Homo sapiens: one gene and its partners. The protein of the gene in region 2 interacts with the protein of the main gene of each other region in a pairwise test. Each region holds a gene or a part of one and is shown on either strand. Other genes may lie near its edges. The genes, in order: LRRC45, CCDC89 and TSFM.

Region 1 (5,461 bases), on a different chromosome or scaffold from region 2:
GGGCGGCGGCGGGCGCGGCCGCGAGCCGAGCTGCGGAGAAATGCCCGGCGCCGCAGCGGCCGCGGACCCGAGCGCCGAGCGATCGGCCGGAGACAGCCGAGCGCCGCCGAGCGCCGGGCGCGGAGACAGCCGAGCGCGGCCGGCGGGGGGCGGGGGGCGGGGGCGGGGGCGGGCGGGGGGCGCCCGGCCGCGCGGCTGGCGGGGCGGGGCCGCCCGAACCCGGGCAGAGCTGCGCGAGCTGCGGCGCCCCCGCCTCCAGCGCGACCCCGGCCCGGGGGTCTCCTACGGGTCCCTCGGGGCGCAGCGCAGGCCGGAGAGAGCCCAGCGACCTGGACCCGGCGGGGAGGGCTCCGCGCGCTGCGCTTTCTCGGGGACCCGCCCCCTGCCGCCGGGAGCCAGCTGGGAACTCCGGGGTCTGCAGCCGCCCGAACCCCCAGACGGACAGCCCCCGCGGCCCTCCCGTCCCTTCAAGGCAGCGGCGAGGAGGGGCGAACAGCCGCACCCCGGCAGGCCCTCCCTGCAGGGCTGGGGGCAGAGGGCCGCGCGTTTGGAGAGGCACGGACGGTCGCGCGTTTGGAGGGAGAGGCGGGGCCAGAATGTATCACAAAGTGCAAACGCGCTGTATTTCCAAACCCCGCCGCGCGCAGGCGGCCGCAGCGTTCACGGTGACATCGCAAAAGGCGAGGGGGAGACGCGCCCGCGGGACCCCTTCCCGGTGTGCTCCCACGTGGCGTCGACCGGGAAGAAGGGGCCGGTAGGGAGCCCTTCCCAGGCGCCTCCCACGGGGTTCCCCCGCAGCCGCGACACCACCAACAGTCGCCGCAACCGCCGCGTGGAACAGACGACCCGGGTCTCAAAGAGGCGGCGCGGGCGGGACGCAGCCCCTGGTCCATCTCGGGCGCCGCCTGATGCACTCCTACTGCGCCCGGGTCCTCCCGGCCTGTCTCACTTTGGGGGGCTCAGGGTCCTCACGGGGGACGCCTGCACGTAAGCCAGGACGGCGTTCTGCAGGAAGCTCGCCCTCTGGGCCTCCTCGTCCCGGATGCGGGCGATCTCCGCCTCCCGGAGCCGCAGCTTCTCCCGGAGAGACGCGTTCTCGCTCTCCCTGTCCAGCAGCGCCTCTCGGTGGTCGCTCGCCATCACTGCAGGGCAAGGAGCGCAGTGAGCGGACGCAGCCCCAGCGCACCGTGGCACGGCCTCAGCACGGGAGACCTGGCCAGCCCCGCTCTCTGGCTGGCCTCACGTCCCACCAGTGGGCGGCGGGAGGACAAGGGTCTGGCTCACCTTTCAGCTGGCGCTCCAGGGCCGCCGCCTTCTCCCTCAGCGCCTCCTGAGCCGCCAGCTCCGCCTGCAGCCGGCCGTTCTGCTCCTGCAGCTCCACGCGCACCCTGCTCACCTCGGCCACCCTTTCCTGGTCCTTGAGGCTCAGCTCCTGCCAGGCACGAAGGCTGGGGAGTGAGGCGAGGGTTGGGGGCTAGCACGCCCGGGGCCCCCCACCGGAGCCCCGCCTACCTGCTGCAGCTCTTCCAGGCGCCGCCGCAGGCCCTCAACTTGCAGGCCCAGCTGGCTGACCCGGGTCTGGGCCTCGGCCACCACCTGCTTCTGCTGTAGGCAAGCGCCCTGCGCCTCGTCCCGTGCCTGCGCCAGCAGTCTCAGCTTGTCCTCCAGGTGAGCCAGGCGCTGTTGCTGTGAGCACAGGGGCCGCCACGAAGCATGAGGGGCTCAGCCTGAGCTCAGCTGAGGGAATGTCTGCACGGGCACGACCCCACCTCTCTGCAGGACTGGCTGCTCTAGTTACTATGACTCTGAACCCGCTCCCCTGGCAGCCACCTCCTCCAGATGCCCTCTGGGCTCTCCTCCTCCCTCTTCGGTCACACCACCCCTCCCATCCATCCATGCGTGTAGTCACAGGCTGCAGAGATGGGCCAAACCTCTCCACCGTCTCAGGCCCTGATCCAAGGCTGAAGCGGACCCACCAGTGTCCAGGGTGTGCTCATCTGACCTCAACACCACACTCCCGCCTCCCCACTCAGACCGAAGCTCTGGAGTCTGCATGCGGGCCGCAATGCCGGGCAGCCTGGCTCCCCCGGAGGGTGGCGGACATGTGTGGCTCACCTCCTCCAGGCGGGCCTGGCTCTTGGCCTTGATCAGCTCCTCCTCAGCCTGGCCACGCTCGCTGAGTGCCGCTGCTTTCACTCGGCTCAGCTCCTGCACAGATGGCCACCTGCCAGCCCGTTCTCCTGTCCCTGGCCCAGGGCCCTTCTCTCTCTGGCCCATCCAGCCAACCCCAGCCAGGGGGGCTCCTCTCTGCCAGCCTCCTGAGGGCCACGCAGCTGCTCTGCCACCTAGCTCGCTGGGCAAGGTTCCTAAGGCCAAGGAAGTCCGAATGCCACCTAAGTCCCTTTAGCTTCTTGGGCACACTGGTGGGTGGGTCCCCAAGGTGGGGCCTATGAGCCTCTGGGAACAGGAAGAGGTCTCTGGTCCTGAGGCGGCGAACACCAGGGGCCCCTGCCTTGTTCAGCCCAGGACTAAGGCAGAGCTTGGCCCTGCCTGGTGGGCACTCACCTCCTCCAGGGACAGCCGCGCCGCCTCCAGCCTCTGCACCCGCTCCTGCATGGCCTTCTCACTCTCCTCCAGGTGACGGGTCATATGCTCCACCTGCTCAGGGGCAGGGATTGTGGGGCCAGAGTGGAGAGCGGGCCTCCCTACCTTCTCCTCACGGACTCCCCACCCTGAAAGGCAGGTGTCTCTTGAGAACCTTGTTCATTCTGAGAAAGCACTGCCTCAGATGGCCTAGCAGGAAACTACCGCAGCATGCACACCCTGAACGAGTGGGCCTTGGTGTCTCTTCAACGGCAGCCTGTACTACGGCTCAGACATTGCCGGGGTCCCCCCGCCGCCCCCAATAGGAGGTTCTGGGTCTGACATCCGCTCAGGCTGGCAAAATACGGCCACCCAGTGACCCAAGGTTGGCAAGGGAAGCTCCCACCAGGTGTGTGCTTTGGGGACACCTGCGTGACACCAAGACCAGAGACTGAGGCGCATTAGAGGCCAACGAAGAGGGCACCTCCTTGATGCGCAGGCTTTCGGAGTCCTCCAGGCTCTGTCTGCATCTTCTCTTCTCCATGTCCAGGCGCTCTGGAAGCCCAGGGTGGGCAGAGTATGCGTGAGCATCCCCTGGGGGCCCCCGTCCCCCGGTGCCCATCCCCAGGCCCCTCCACAGCAGGCCTGCCCGTGCCCACCCTCGGCCTGGATGGCCCGCATCTTCAGCTCAGCTGACATGCTGGTCATCTCCTGCCTGGTCTGGAACAGCTGCTCCTGCTGACACCTGAACTTCCGCTCCAACTCGTCTACCTGAAAGCCGGCACCAGGGAGGGAAGCTGCAGCCCAGCCCTGCCGCGCCCACCCTGGGCTCCCTGGCTCCATCCACCACAGCTACCTGGTTTTGCAGAAGCAGGTTCTTTTCATTGGCAGCAGACAAGTCTCTGAGGAGTTTAGACTCCCGCTCTGCAGCTTCCTGGGAGGGGAACGGGGTATGGGTAGTGAGGGTCACGAAGCCGCCACGCACCCCTTGGCCCACCCCTCTCAAGCCCTGCCCACCCACCTGCTGCTCCAGCTTGAGCTCCTTGGCCTGCCTCTGTGACAGGCTCAGCTGCTCCTGCTCCGCTGTGGCCAGGAGCTCCCCCAGGTCCTGGGCCTTCTGCTCCGACAGAGCCAGGGCGGCCTCTGTCATCTGCAGCCTGCAGAAAGGAGGGGCAGCACCCCCGCCCCGGTTGGAGTTTCACTTGCCTTATAAAGGCCTCGCTGCTTTCACTGTTGCTGGGCACCTAGTCAACCCCAGCCAGCACCCGCCTCCTCCAGGAAGGCTTCTGGGTTACTGCCCCAGCCTCACCATTTCCCACCTCTGCTTTGCAAACAGGACTTGCACACAGGTTCACACCACCTTTCTCTGCCCTGTGGGCACGTCTCTGAAGTATCCTGAGGCCACCCCCCACTTACTTGGCCTTGAGAGCGTTGATGATGGAGTGCCTCTCATTCAGGGCTTCCTGAAGCTGCCCTACACGGGCTGCCGACGCCCTGTGGGCAGAGAGGAGGGTGCAGAGAGTAACCCAAACCCCAGAGCGCTCCCATACCCCTCTGGCCTCGGTAGCTGCTGCTGTTCCTTAAGCATCTATGGTCGCCTGGGCACTGAGCCTCCAGCGACCTCCTCGTGGCCTCACTCGTGGGCTCAGGTTGGTCCCATCTGAGTCTGAGCCAGGACCTGATCCCTGAAGCCTCACCCTGCCCCTGCCCTGGGCCCGCTCACCTGCTGCTCTTGGCCATCTCTTCTCGCTGCTTATCAATAGTCTCCATCAAGTCGAGGAACTGGGGACAGAGACAGCCGCAGCCCTGTCAGGGCACCTGCAGCCTGTCCACCTGACCTTCTCAGGGGGAAGGAGAGCCAGCGCCCACCAATGTGGCAAGGCAGCGGAGGGTTCCACCCACGGTGCCCTGTCTCCTTCACAGGAAGGGTGGCCCCTGCAGAGCGAGGCCTCAGGGCTCAGACGCCAGCTCCCCAAGGAAGTCCACCTGCAGATCAGACCAGGAGGCCGCCCCTCCTTCCTGGTACCAGCCACTCAGAGAGGCTCCAGGGCCCCGAGGAAGGGAAGATGGGCAGACCACGGGGCTGAGGGAGGAAGGACGTGGCCAGGCCCTCCAGCCATAAGCAGCTCCAAGGTCAGTGAAGGCGCCATCCTCACCTGCTTGGACTTCTCCTCCCGGAGGTGCTGGACCTCCTTGCTGAGGACGTGAGTGCGGGCTTGGTTCTCCTGGAAGGTGGTGAGCCGGTCCTGGCTGTGGCCCATGGCTTGCTCTGCAGAAGGAGCTGTGTCAGCTGGGCACAGGGGCTCATGCCTGGAATCCCAGCACTTTGGGAGGTCGAGGTGGGTGGATCACCTGAGGTCAGGGGTTCGAGACCAGCCTGGCCAACATGGTGAAACCCCATCTGTACTAAAAATACAAAAAAGTAGCTGGGCATGGTAGCGCACACCTGTAATCCCAGGTACTCGGGAGGCTGAGGCAGGAAAATCGCTTGAACCGGGAGGTGGAGGTTGCAGTGAGCCGAGATTGCGCCACTGCACTCCAGCCTGGGTGACTGAGTGAAACTCAGTCACACACACACACACACACACACACACACACACACAAAGGAGCTGTGTCACCCCGGGGCTGCTTAGCCTCAGGAGTAGCTGGTGGCCACCAGCCCTGCACCCAGCGGCTGGCTGCTTGGGAATCTATGCCGTGTGGGGCAGCGTCTCACCCGGCAAGTCAGGGGTGCCCCCTCAGTGCATGGGGGTGGAAGTGCTTTGTGGGGTTCGGGCTGTGAGCAAGAGCCGCCTGGTGTTGGGGAGCGCGTGCACATGTGGGGCAGAGGTGGTGGGAGCTGCTCCACCGCAAAAGGCAAGGGCCATCCTGGGGCATC
Region 2 (6,822 bases):
ATAATAATAATAATAATTATTATTATTATTTTTGCCCTTAGACTGTATGGGGGCTCTTCCAGGGCAGTAAAAATGCTTCTTTATGCTTCTTCTTAGTGCCTACCCCAGCACCTGGCACTTGGTCGCCAAAAATTATCTTTCAGTGTGCTGTAGTCATCAAAATCCAGCTCCCCCAGTGACCAACTGGCCTTAAGCAAAATTACCAAAACCAGTCTCCTCTTCCTTAAAATAGAAATGAACACGCTTTCCTTCTTGAATAGTCCTAAGAATTAAATAAAGTAATTCATCCAAATTGCTTCAGCGCAATGATAAATAGTATGGGCTCAATAAAGGATATCCATGATTAACTTAGCTCCTATATTCTGATTCTTGGTAACCTGTAGAAGGAAGTAAATAGTCCTTTGAAGCTAGCAGTGTGGTTTCTATTTTGATGAGAAAAGTTTGTATTTAATAGCATAATCTTAATAGAAGTGTGAAAAAATGGGTGTAAAAAATTACCTGAGGCAAGGTAACACTTGCTTGGAAATGGTTTTACTAAAAAGGCACCAAGTCATATTTTTTAAGTAAATTCATTATGTAACTTGGTAGCCTTCAGCAAAATGGGTGAGAAAAATATTACATTACAATCTATTTTGAGAGGTATTCATAATAATGTTTATATATCAATACCTAATTACAGGAAGATAAGAAAATATAACTACCTTTGAGAACTTTTTTAAGAACTTTACATATATATATATCATGTTTTTATAACTATTCTTACAAAATGTAGGTATTACTACAAAAATGCTGCAAGCATACATACACACGTTCAGCTTAGATTTTTTTAAAAAAGGAAAATCTTAATTACAAAAAATATGCTAATAGAAACAAAACAATTTCTGAGTTACTCTATAGATCACGTCTGCTATGATTTGTTACCCCAAATTGTCTAATTGTCTATTAGCATATCGTGCAATATTAAATTAAGCTACTGATATTTGCATTATTGCACATCTAAATCCTCTTTTTAAAGAGAAAACCAAAAAATGGAATATTATCTAAGCTTGCAGAAAAAATAAAAGTTGTTTTGTATAACTTATTTGAATCATATTGCTCATACAGAATAAAATTGACCTTCTTTGTTAAAGAACTTGATCTCAATCATTTTCCAAGCTAGCGCAAAATAAAATAAAGTCAGACACTTTTTTTTTTCTGCAAAGCATTCATGCTATTATGCTGATACATGTTTGCTTACAATCTCAACTATGGGAGACTATAAGCCTAACTATCTACAGTGGGTAATTGTGCTAATTATTTTTCACAATGGCACATCTCACTGCACTTAGATTGACTTAAATCATAGAAGCTGCTAATTTAAAATCCTAACATAAATGAAGATATCTGAGGTTGAGAATTAATAACTTATGGGTAGGAGAAGATACTACTAGTAAATTTAAGATTTCTAAGGCACAGAAGGAAATCTGGCAAATCTTGTGTATTCTAGGTGTAGAAATGAAAATTAATAATGGCTTTACAATAATAACAACAATATCATAGTAAAGTAGCTTTTCTTTGAGTTGCCTTTTGTGCTTGAAAGTATAATAAATGGGATATCATCTTTACTCTTGCCATAATGCTAAGACGCAAATATTTGAATTCTGAATTGCAGGCCAGAGGAAGCAGAAACTTCCCTATGGAGAGAGATGGCGGAGTTTGCCATTGAGTTCTCTCTCCTTGCTTAAAAGATCCAAGCTGTGCTTTTTGAAGGCTTCAGACTGCAGCCTGAGTTCATCGTAGGCCTTCTGGATCCCATCTACTTTGCGCTGAAGCTCCCTGACTCTCAAGTTGCTGTCCACAGCCACTGCCTCTTGCTCAAACCGCTCCAGCGCATGCTTCCTGTCTTCATTTGCTATCTCCAACTTTTCCTCAAGCTGGCAGATCTCTGCCTGTTTGTTCTGAAGCACTTTGCCCCTTTCAATGGACAGCTGCAGCAACTCCTCTTTCTCTCTAGTGACGGTCTGCAGCCTGGCCTGCAGCTCCTGGCTCAGGCTGCTGTGTGTCTCCTCTGCCTTAGCTATCTGCTCCACAGCCTGCTGGTGCTGCTGCTTGAGGGTCTGCAGCTGGCTGCGCAGCTGTTCTGTCTCCTTGGTGTGGGTGCAGGCCTGCTGGCTCTGTAGCTCCAGCAGCTCCTTCTCGCGCGCCTGTGCCTGGCAGGCATCCTGAGCACACCTCTCCTTCAGCGTTTCTAGCTCCCCAGTGAGGGCCTCACACCGGACTGTGAGCTGTAATACTTTCGCCTCCTCATCCTTCAGAGCCTGGCTGAAGAGGCTGCTATTCTCCAGCCTCAGCTTCTCATTCTCCTCCCTCAGCTTGATGTTCTCACTCTTGTATTCATCCTTGAAGCGGAGCATCAACTCGTGGTTGGCTGCTAGGGTCATAAAGCGTTCCTCTAGTTTCCGACTGTACTCACCCTGGGCCTTGAGCTTCTCAGCCTCCTGCATCATCTTCTCCTCCAGCTCTGCATTGAGCAGCTCTAGGATCTGGCAGCGCTCCAGGGCCTCATCTGACCTCCGCTTCAGGATGCAGATGAGCTGGGACTGCTCTTCAATGCGGGAGCGAAGCATAGCCTTCTCGCTCCTCTCCTCCTCTGACAGTCCCCGGAGGTTTGCCAAGGCTTCCCTCAGACCGTCCAGTTCCTTAAACTCCGTCTCCTCTTCCTGGTTGTTCAGTTTTTCATTTTGCTTCTCTAAGCGTTCTTCAGGGGGCGGGGTGTCCATCCTGGGAGCCTGCTGTTTCTGGAGCATAGGCGCTCTCATCCACTAAGGGCTGACTACAGTCTTTTCCCCTCAGATTTCAAACGCTGCAGGGTGTTGCTAGGGACTCTTGGCACTCCCCAGCAGTTGGTTTTTCCAGTAAGGAGCCCTGTAATTGGTGGACAGGTCTTCAGAATGCTATGAAGTAACAACAGGGGAATCTGGGGGAGTCCAGAGCCAATCTGGTCGGGTTACTTTTGCCTTTCTAACCAATCACAGCTCTCAGTTGTCAACTGTCTCAGTGTCTGGCCTGTACAGCACAGAGATGCCAACCCCACTCAATCTCCAGCCAGCATCAGGGGAGGAAGCCTGACTCCACCTAATTTCTGGTAGTAGTAAACAAATGAAGCAGGCAATGATATATTTATCCTCCCTCTCCCCTCTTCAGTTATCGTTTGAATAAATTACTGTTTGTGGAAACATGGTTGGCTCCTCAAAAAATTTCAGTCTATGAATACAAAGTAGTAGTGGTATTCTGAGAGCCAGGACCCTAAAAGCCTGCATATCTGCACCCGTGATGTTTGGCACAGCTCCCTTTTGGTATTTAAGTATTAAAATAGAAAACACCAGTGAAATTTCTTTTGTTGTTCTTAGCATTGTCCCCACCTGGGCATAAATACTCTTTATTAGATATTTAACACCCCCTGTTTTTACCCATTAGCAAAATAAGGTTACAGAAAGAAGCTTAGTGAACCACACAGATAAACATTAAAACAGAAAAAATAAGATTCAAATGAAGCTTGCCATTATATGCCAAAGTCAACTCCTGATAGATTAGTTAAATGTAAACAGAAACTAGAAGAAAATGAAGGTAAACATCAAATCTCTGGGGCTAGGAAGGATTTTTTTTTTATCTTAAACATTATGTAAGATCAGAAAGGGAAAGCTTACTCAAAAAGTTATGTATAATTTTTTAAATTATGTGACTTCTGAGGTCTCTCCAGCCCCTTCTTCCACTGGATTTTCTTGACATTTTACTCCTCAAACCCAAATATTGAAGCCAAACCCAAATCCACTAACCAGCTCTCTCGCCCTATCTTTAGGTGTTCCTCTACTTGGAATGCCTTTCCTACTTTGTCCCTTGTCACTCTAGTAAAGCTTTTTATTCTTAGTTAAGAATCGTCTCTGAAGCCTATTCCTGGCCCCTACATGTCCAATTGGTCACTCACATCTTTTAGTGCATCCGCTATAGCTATTTGTACTTCTGGTGGAGGATGTGAAAATTTTATTGCAGTCACTGTTTATCTGCCAGCTTCCCTCTGTTAGACTGTAAGATCCTTAAGGGCAGGGACTGTGTCTATTTCATCCTTGATGATTAGACTAGTGCCTGGCACATGGGGGAGATTCAGATAAATGTGTATTAAGTGGATGTTGAAGGTAAAAATCAAATTGAGAAAAATATCCCTAATATGACAGACACTACTTTTTTTTTTTTTTTTTTTTTTTTTTTGAGACAGAGTCTCCCTCCATCGCCCAGGCTGGAGTGCAGTGGTACGATCTCGATTCACTGCAACCTCCGCCTCCCGGGCTCAAGCAATTCTCCTGCCTCAGTCTCCTGAGTAGCTGGGATTACAATTACATACAACCACACCTGGCTAATTTTTGTATTTTTAGTAGAGACGGAGTTTAACCATGTTGGTCAAGCTGGTCTTGAACTCCTGACCTTAAATGATCCACCCGCCTCAGCCTCCCAAAGTGCTGAGATTACAGGCATGAGCCATCGCACCCAGCCCAGACACTACCTTTTTTAAATAAATATTTTATACATATCAACGAAACATTAACATCTAAAAAATAAACAATTAAATTCACAAAAATGGCCAAGAACTGAACGTCTACAGTGATCCAATAAATACAAGTTAAAATTAGACATAATTTCGGCCGGGTGTGGTGGCTCACGCCTGTAATCCCAGCACTTTGGGAGGCCGAGGCAGGCGGATCACGAGGTCAGGACATTGAGACCATCCTGGCTAACACGGTGAAACTCCGTCTCTACCAAAAAAATACAAAAAATTAGCCAGGCGTGGTGGCAGGCGCCTGTAGTCCCAGCTACTCAGGAGGCTGAGGCAGGACAATGGCGTGAACCCGGGAGGCGGAGCTTGCAGTGAGCCGAGATCGCGCCACTGCACTCCAGCCTGGGCAACAAAGCGAGACTCCGTCTCAAAAAAAAAAAAAAAAAAAAAAAGATATAATTTCACGTATCAAATTAGTCAAAAAATTTTCTCTTAAGACAAGCCAGGACTAGAAAGGAGTATTGAAATAGGCACTCTCTTAAACTGTTGGTGAAAGTCAGTTGACAGTAGGTACTGAGAAATTAAGATATTTTTATGGCTTCCGAACTAGTAATTCTTCTGCGGAGATCTTTGCTTAGGAAATAATCTGAAAGAAAACATTTTGCTCAAAACTTTTCATTGTAGTGTGGTTTGTAACAACTAAAAGTTGGAAACCCAAGTTTTCAAAAAAAAAAGGGAATGGTTACAAAAATTATGATATATTCATACAAAAAATATTGTACAGCCACTAGAACTTATTACATTTATAGGTAATTTTTAATAGCATGGAAAAGTCTTATGTTAGAAATACAACTGAAAAAGGCAAAATACAAAACTTAAAATTCAGATGATTTCAATCCTGTGAAAATTAAGGGTAGGGAAAAGAGTTGACTATTCTTGTGGTCACAGTTTCTGGTGATCAGATTTACTATCTCCCAAGTCATGATGATAAGGAAAAACCCTGGGTGTCATTATAGATATGAGATGAATTTTTAAATGCTTCAGATTTCACTGGGAGCGAAACAAATCTGAAAGAAGAGTTTCAGGTTCTTCCCTCACTGTCAAAGATCAAGGTCTCATGTTTCAAATCCTGAATTTCTTGTCTATATATGGAAACCAAGATTGAAGACTGGGGAAATTTCCTAAGCTGAAATTTTAACAACTACATAAACAGTAGGATATTGAAGTTTTGTGAAAGTGAATTCCAAAGACTTTAAAAATGTGAATTAAACTTATTTGTAATTTTCCCACATTTCTCTTGTCCTTTTCCTTAAATTTCAAGCTTCATATGCGTAAATGGAGTTCGTCTAGTTATTTTCAAGGCAAATGACTAGAAAATTAGAATGGTCCTCTTAAATAAAAGGGTCTTACAAACATTGAAAATTTTATTTGTTGATTATATGGTTGTCTGATATCATAAAGTGAATTCACAAAATATATTTCCTGAAAGGAGGAAAAGAATTCAGAAAAATACGGAAAAAAGATACATACACATTTGTTTTTTTACCAGTCAGGGTCTCTGTTGCCCAAGCTGGAGTGCAGTAGTGTCATCATAGCTCACTGCAGTCTTGAATTCCTGGGCTCAAGCAATCTTCCTGCCTCAGCCTCCCAAGCAGCTAGGACTACAGGCATGTACCACCATGTTCAGCTAAATTTTCCACATTTGAAAAAGCTTATATTTCTTTTTTGCAAATATATTTTAATACACATTTCTATTAAATTTATATTTACATTATTTAAAATAACACACATCTATAGATTACTTATCAAGACCAAGAATCTGATAAGATCCTAATCAATATTCATTCATTTATTCAGTAAACATTTGCAAGGTTATTTGCAATGCTAGGTGCTAAGAATATATTAATAAAATAAATACGATCACTGTCCTCAAATAACTTAGTTTAGTAATCACTTTGGTTCCTTTCTGCCGTGGTTGTCTTCTTTGCTCAATCATTTTTTTTCTAGCTCCCCTCCTAAAAGTATCCCATATATTCCCTTCCCAGAGATCCAAGGTGACCAATTCTCTCCCTTGTGGTGATCAATGAGTCGTCTCCACTTATCTTTAAGTCTTTCCATGCCTCCCTCCCTTTTAAAGCTACCATTTACAGAGCTCTTCTAGGTAGTGGGCATTTATTTGTACATCTCTCACTTAATTCTAATGATATTCTTGAAGGGTAGGCATTATTATCCACATTTTATCAATTACAGGTAACAAAGACACCAAGGTTGAGAGAGGTTAAGCAAATTATGCC
Region 3 (7,114 bases), on a different chromosome or scaffold from region 2:
GGAGTTTGAGACCAGCCTGGCAAACATGGTGAAACCCCGTCTCCAACGAAATACAAAAATTAGTTGGGCATGGTGGCACACGCCTGTAATCCCAGCTACTGGGGAGCCTGAGACGTGAGAATCGCTTAAACCTGGGAGGCGGAGGTTGCACTGAGCTCAGATTATGCCAATGCACTCCAGCCGGGGAAACAGAATTGAGACTCCATCTCAAAAAAAAAAAAGAAAGAAAGAAAACATTCTTTAAGACAACTAAGTGTAGACAATATTTTCATAAAGGCAAGAATGTTAAAAATTGGTAACAGTTCCATCTTTATAAACATTTTATTCTATCACTGCACCACCCCCAATTACATTCCACTCTCATCCTCCAGCCTAACTTCCTAGAATGTAATTTCCTAGAAATCAAGAACAATTATTTTCTTTTTCTTTTAAATATAGAGATGGGGTTTCCCTATGTTGCTCAGGCTGGTCTTGAACTCTTAGCTTAAGAGATCCTCCTGCTTCAGTCTCCCAAAGTGTTGGGATTACAGGCGTAAGCCACTGCACCTGGCCAAGAACAGTTTTTTCTTTTTTTTGAGATGGAGTCTCGCTCTGCCGCCCAGGCTGGAGTGCGGTGGCATGATTTCAGCTTACTGCAACCTCCACCTCCCGGGTTCAAGCGATCCTCCTGCCTCAGCCTCCCGAGTAGATGGGACTACAGGCATGCGCCACCATGCCTGGCAAATTTTTATATCTTTTTTAGTGGAGACAGGGTTTCACCATGTTGGCCACGCTGGTCTTGAACTCCTGACCTCAAGTGATCCACCTGCTTCAGCCTCCCAAAGTGCTAGGTTTACAGGCGTGAGCCACTGCACCTGGCCAAGAACAATATTTTCATAAAATCATAAAATGTTAGAGCTAGATTTGCACATTTTTGATGGGAATGCAAAATGGTACAAATCCAATGGTGTGAAGTTGTAGTATCTAATAAAACTACATATGCATTTATCCTTTGACCCTGAAATCCTATTTCTATGAATTCACCTTGATGATATACTTCCAATAATACTGCACAAGATTATTCATTGAACAATTATTTCTAATCAGAAAATTTTAAAAACAGCCTAAATGCCCAAACATAGCAGGAGATTAAACTATAGCACATCCACACAACAGAATACTATGTAGTTGGAAAAAATAAAAAGGATGACCTTCATGAATTGCTATGGAGTATTTCCAGGACATATTATTAAGTGAAAAAAGCAGATTATAAGTGTATATGCATATTATACTACTATCTGTGCAACAAAGAACTATTTGTATAAATATGCTTATTTTTGCAAAAAGAAATACTGAAAGGATAACCACAATCCAATGACACTGGTTATCTAAATAAAGGGATGGATAGGAACGGGGTAGAAGGGAGAGAAGCAGTAAGACTCCTCTGAGCATACTTTTTTTTTGACAGTTTTAACTTTGAGGACTTTCTTAATGTATCTTATGTATTCAAAAATAAAATTGAACCTGGCCGGCCGGGCGCGGTGGCCCACGCCTGTAATCTCAGCACTTTGGGAGGCTGAGGCGGGTGGATCACCTAAGGTCAGGAGTTCGAGACCAGCCTGGCCAACATGGTGAAACCCCATTTCTACTAAAAATACAAAAATTAGCCAGGTGTGGTGGCGGGCACCTATAATCTCAGCTACTCAGGAGGCTGAGGCAGGAGAATCACTTGAACCCAGGAGGCGGTGGCTGTAGTGAGCTGAGATCATGCCATTGCACTCCAGCCTGGCTAATGAGAGTGAAACTCCATCTTAAAAAAAAAAAAAAAAAATCTGGCCCAGTGCCGTGGCTCATGCCCATAATCCAGCACTTTGAGGAGGCCAAGTCAGGCAGATCACTTGAAGCCAGGAGTTTGAGACCAGCCTGGCCAATATGGTGAAACCTCATCTCTATTAATATAAAAAAGATTTAAAAAACAAACAAAAAACCCCGAAGTGCTGGAATTACAGGCATGAGCCACTGTGCCCAGCCAAAAAAAAAAACACACATTTAAAAAATAAAATTAAAATAAAATTAAATCAACACATACTTGGGGTGAAAATAAATACTGACTACAAAGAAATATAAAACTATATTTCAAATGAGTAACATAAGCTCACAGAAGGAAAAAAAAAATCCAAATAACTAAACGGAGTCATTTGACCACCTAACTTCAATGTAAAGACAAAAAGAACTACAAATAAATCTTGAACTCCTTAGTAGTTTTGTTATTTGCAGTGGTCAGGGGTAGCAATTCTGAAACAATTTTGTATATATATTGTAACACTTAGTACATATGAGTACATAACTAAAAACAGTAAACATATTGAAGTTGCTATGAAAAAGGAAGGATTGAACCACACGCACACAGCACATACACCTGCACTGTCTGCTCGAAGAACAAATGACATCTCAGTAGAAATCAGCACACCTGGCCAGGCGCAGTGGTTCACGCCTGTAATCCCAGCACTTTGGGAGGCCAAGATGGGTGGATCACGAGGTCAGGAGTTCAAGACCAGCCTGCCCAACATGGTGAAACCCTGTCTCTACTGAAAATACAAAAATTAGCTGGGTATGGTGGCACGTGCCTGTAATCCCAGCTACTCGGGAGGCTGAGGCAGGAGAACTGCTTGAACCGGGACCCAGGAGGCAGAGGTAGCAGCGAGCCAAGATCGCGCCACTGCACTCCAGCCTGGGCTACACAGCAACACTCTGTCTCAAAAAAAAAAAAAAAAAAAAAGAAAGAAAGAAATCAGCACACCTAACATTCAAATCTTGATTTCTAAAAACCATTCCCCAACTAAAAAGGACCAGGACTCCTTGAAGAAGTGGCCCATTCCACAGTTGGGGAAAGGAAAGTATGACATAAACCCAAAAGATAAGAATAAACAAAAAAGCCAAAAAGTAAGAAAATACTCAGAAAATAATAAGGGCATATCAAAGGACATTACAGTCAGCTTGCATTGATCAAATCCGCAGATAATTTGAGCATCAAAACGAATAATGAGTTATAACTTATTGTATAAAATAAGAACCCACGAGTCAATGTTAGTGCTGAATAAATCACTAAATAAAAATGAGAAGGGAAATTTATTTCTAACAGTAGAATGACAACTACTAAAACTAACACATTTTGGCTGGGTGCGGTGGCTCACGCCTGTAATCCCAGCACTCTGGGAGGCCAAGGCGGGCAGATCACCTGAGGTCAGGAGTGCGAGACCAGCCTGACCAACATGGCAAAACCCCATTTCTACTAAAAACACAAAAAAATTAGCTGGAAGTAGTAATGCATGCCTATAATCCTAGCTACTCAGGAGGCTGAAGCATAAGAATTGCTCGAACCCAGGAGGTGAAGGTTGCAGTGAGCTGAGATCACAACACTGCACTCCGTCTCAAAGAAAAAAAAATCCTAAATGTGATCACTGTCCTGTGGTTATATAACAATGTCCTTGTTTTTACGAGATACATGCTGAAGGAATAAAGGATCCTGATGTCTGCAACATACTTACAAAAAGATTTTTTTTAAACAGTGATGATGACCGGGTGCAGTGGCTCACGCCTGTAATCCCAGCACTTTGGGAGGCCCAGGTGGGCAGATCACCTGAGGTCAGGAGTCAAGACCAGCCTGGCCAACATGGTGAAACTCCCGTCTCTACAAAAATACAAAAAAAATTAGCCGGGCATGATGGCAGGTGCCTGTAATCCCAGCTACTTGGGAGGCTGAGGTGGAAGAATCGCTTGAACTGGGAGGGAGAGGTTGCAGTGAGCGAGATGGCACCATTGCACTCCAGCCTGGGTGACAGAGAGACTCCATCTCAAAAAAAAAAAAAAAAAAGGGCGATGATAACATGTATATAAAAAGTGATAGGGCCAGCTGTAGTGACCCAAGCCTATAATCCCAACACTTTGGGAGGCCAAAGCAGGTGGATTTCTTGAGCCCAGAGGTTTGAGACCAGCCTGGGCAAGATGGCAAGACTGTCTCTACAAAAAACTTAAAAATGAGCCTAGCATAGTGGTGTGCACATGTAGTCCCAGCTACTCAGGAGTCTGAGGTGGGAAGATCACTTGAGCCCAGGAATTTGAGGCAGCAGTGAACAATGATTGTGCCACTGCACTCCAGGCTGGGCAAGAAAGCCAGATCTGTCTCTTAAAGAAAAAAAGAAGTGATAAAGCAAATACAGCAAAATGTTAATAAATGGCAAATCTGGAAAAAGAGTACACTGGGGCCAGGCATGGTGGCTCACGCCTGTAATCCCAGCACTTTGGGAGGCGGAGGCGGGCGAATCACTTGAGGTCAGGAGTTCAAGACCAGCCTGGCCAACATGGTGAAACTCTGTCTTTACAAAAAATACAAATACTAGGCGTGTGTGGTGGCGGGCGCCTGTAGTCCCAGCTACTCGGGAGTCTGATGCAGAATTGCTTGAACCCAGGAGGTGGAGGTTGCAGTGAGCCAAGATTGCACCACTGCACTCCAGCCTGAGTGACAGAGCAAGACTTCATCTCAAAAAACAAAAACAAAAATAAAAAAAAAAAGGGTACACTGGTGTTTACTGGCAAAATCAAAGCTAAAATTTCTAGTTCAAGTGACTTACCTACTCAATACAATTAAAAAAAATAATCTCAACATTGTTTTCCATATGACTATGTAATGCCAATAATAATTAACATTTACCAAGACATCTCAAGAGAAGGATAAAGAAGATAAAAAAAGTTGGTAATAAACTCAAAAAAATTACTGTGAGTGGTTGGTTCATCTTTGCCTTGGCAATAAGGCTGAGTCAAAGGCAGAATGACATAATTCCTTTCCTTGATCCCTCTATGGATAAGAATATGCTTATTTTCCTAAACCATGTCTTTTCCAATCTCTCTCTCTTTTTTTTTTTCTGAGACGGAGTTTTGCTCTTATTGCCCGGGGGGAGTACAACGGCTCACTGCAGCCTCTACCTCCCGGGTTCAAGCGATTCTCCTGCTTCAACTTCCCAAGTAGCTGGGATTACAGGCAAGCGCCACCACGCCCAGCTAATTTTGTATTTTTAGTAGAGACGGGTTTCTCCATGTTGGTCAGGCTGGTCTTGAACTCTCGACTTCAGGTGATCTGCCTGCCTCGGCCTCCCAAAGTGCTGGGATTACAGGGGTGAGCCACCACACCTGGCTCCAATCTCTTTATTTAGAAATTCTTTCCTAAGACCATTCCAAATTTCTGAACACAAAGCCTCAAATGGCTTCACTTGATCTGGCTAACTCCATTTCACTGGCATGCATGCATTCAATCATTCATTCATTCATCTGACAAAGATTTACTGAGCTCCAACTAAGTAGTGGGCCCAATTCTCTTTCACCAGAGATACAACAGTGAAAAGACAAATTCCCTGCCTCATAAAGCTTACATTCTGCTGGGGAAGATAGACAACACACAGATAAATTAAAATGTAATATATAAGCACCATAATAAAAAATTTTAAATGCAGCATGACACGGGGATATAGCAACGGGGGAAGGGTAATTCTATGCAAAGAGATAGCATTTAAGCAGAGATGTGAAGTAACAGAATGAGACATGAGAATGTCTACAATAGGAACAGCAAAAGACCCAATGAGGACAGCAAATTCAGCACACTGGAGACAAATCCCAAACTTACTTTACTGTATGCAGAGGGTTGATCCTTTAGGGTCTGACAATGCATCATGGTTCCAAGGGCTACTTGCTGGACCAACAGTTGAAATTTTAAATTTCTAGAAACAAAATCTGTCTCACAGTTTACCTGTGGGAACAAATTGATATAGCTGTATAAGCTGTTTAATGATAATTTCCAAAAGTGCCTTAAGGCTGGAGAATAAATCAAGATACTGATAGAACAAGCTACAGACTCAACGGAAAAAAAATGACTCCAAAATTTTAAAGCTACGCTTCCTCTCCTAGCCTGGAACAGAATGAAGTGATTTATGTTGGGCCAGTGAGTTAGCAATAGCCTGTATATTCAGAAGATGGTTCAATAATGTCCTGAAGGACTCACCACAAGTTCACCACTTACCTATGTCTGCACACCATCATCACCTCATTCTCCAGCCATCCCAACTCCAAACCACTTATGCTATTATCTTGTTTATCCCCATCTCTCACTCTAAACTAATCCACATCTGACTCTTCACCAATTATGGCCCCCAAACCTCCTCTAAAATACCTACTCTCTATTCAGCAACAATTAATATAATTAACTTGTAATCTAACTGTTCCAGGAAACAATCAGTGACAAGGTGTAAGCCTGTGCCAGACTCACATTCAGGAGTAATATTCTAGACTGTCAGGCCATTTCTCATCAACACACCAGTACATTTCTATACTTAAACGAATTCGTAACTAATACCCAGGGTTTCATGAGTTTAACTTCAACTACGCTTTATGGTTCTTAAACAGATCTCTTCTTCAAGAACAGGCCCCTTTAGGGCCTACTACAAGCTTTACACCCAAGGGACAGCTGTTCTTGGTATCTGGAATTTCCAACAACTCACCTCTACTAATACAGTTGTGTTTCCTTCCTGCAACAGCCCAATCAGGCCTTCTTTGGTCTTCCTCCCTTGGAGCTTGGCAGCTTTGCTCCAGCCCTCCTTCTGGGCCTCCTTGTGGAGCCAGATCTCTGCCTGTAAATTGAGAGGAAAAAGAGCAGACAACAAAGTCACAGAATTTAGCACTAAATGTAGTTCTAAGATATACTCAGGTTTCCTGATTCTCTAAATTCTCTAACAGAAACTAAAGTAATCTATCATTTACTGGCAGTCTACCACTAAATGCCAAATACCAGGTATTATTATAACTGGTGCCTTGGATGAATCTAATCTTCACAACAACCCTATGGGGCACACAGTTGTATTTTCTTTATACAGTTACGCACCACATAACGATATTTTGGACAATGACGGACTGCATATATGATGACGGTCCCTAAGATTATAATGGAGCTGAAAAATTCCTATTGTCTAGTGACACGGTAGTCCTCCTAACATTGTAGGGCAACATATTACCTACATGTTTGTGGCAATGCTAGTGTAAAGAAAACGTCTGTGCTGCCAGTCCTATTAAAGTATAGCACATACAATTA

Evidence for each region.
Region 1: the proteins of CCDC89 (region 2) and LRRC45 interact in binary tests that used the Homo sapiens proteins (3 or more experiments, as listed by UniProt).
Region 3: the proteins of CCDC89 (region 2) and TSFM interact in binary tests that used the Homo sapiens proteins (3 or more experiments, as listed by UniProt).

What each region holds. Positions count from the first base shown.
Region 1 is NC_000017.11:82,026,290-82,031,750, reverse strand, and holds the end of LRRC45 (leucine-rich repeat-containing protein 45), read right to left. Parts: intron 4,853-5,461; coding exon 4,740-4,852; intron 4,366-4,739; coding exon 4,307-4,365; intron 4,078-4,306; coding exon 4,000-4,077; intron 3,741-3,999; coding exon 3,605-3,740; intron 3,518-3,604; coding exon 3,440-3,517; intron 3,355-3,439; coding exon 3,243-3,354; intron 3,139-3,242; coding exon 3,068-3,138; intron 2,733-3,067; coding exon of another isoform or gene 2,706-2,732; exon of another isoform or gene 2,659-2,705; coding exon 2,566-2,658; intron 2,209-2,565; coding exon 2,116-2,208; intron 1,687-2,115; coding exon 1,513-1,686; intron 1,433-1,512; coding exon 1,285-1,432; intron 1,143-1,284; coding exon 946-1,142; 3' UTR 600-945; downstream 1-599. UniProt on the Homo sapiens protein: Component of the proteinaceous fiber-like linker between two centrioles, required for centrosome cohesion.
Region 2 is NC_000011.10:85,683,333-85,690,154, forward strand, and holds CCDC89 (coiled-coil domain-containing protein 89), read right to left. Parts: upstream 2,864-6,822; 5' UTR 2,799-2,863; coding exon 1,674-2,798; 3' UTR 516-1,673; downstream 1-515.
Region 3 is NC_000012.12:57,785,705-57,792,818, reverse strand, and holds part of TSFM (elongation factor Ts, mitochondrial isoform 2 precursor), read right to left. Parts: intron 6,657-7,114; coding exon 6,528-6,656; intron 5,780-6,527; coding exon 5,657-5,779; intron 855-5,656; coding exon of another isoform or gene 792-854; intron 1-791. UniProt on the Homo sapiens protein: Associates with the EF-Tu.GDP complex and induces the exchange of GDP to GTP. It remains bound to the aminoacyl-tRNA.EF-Tu.GTP complex up to the GTP hydrolysis stage on the ribosome.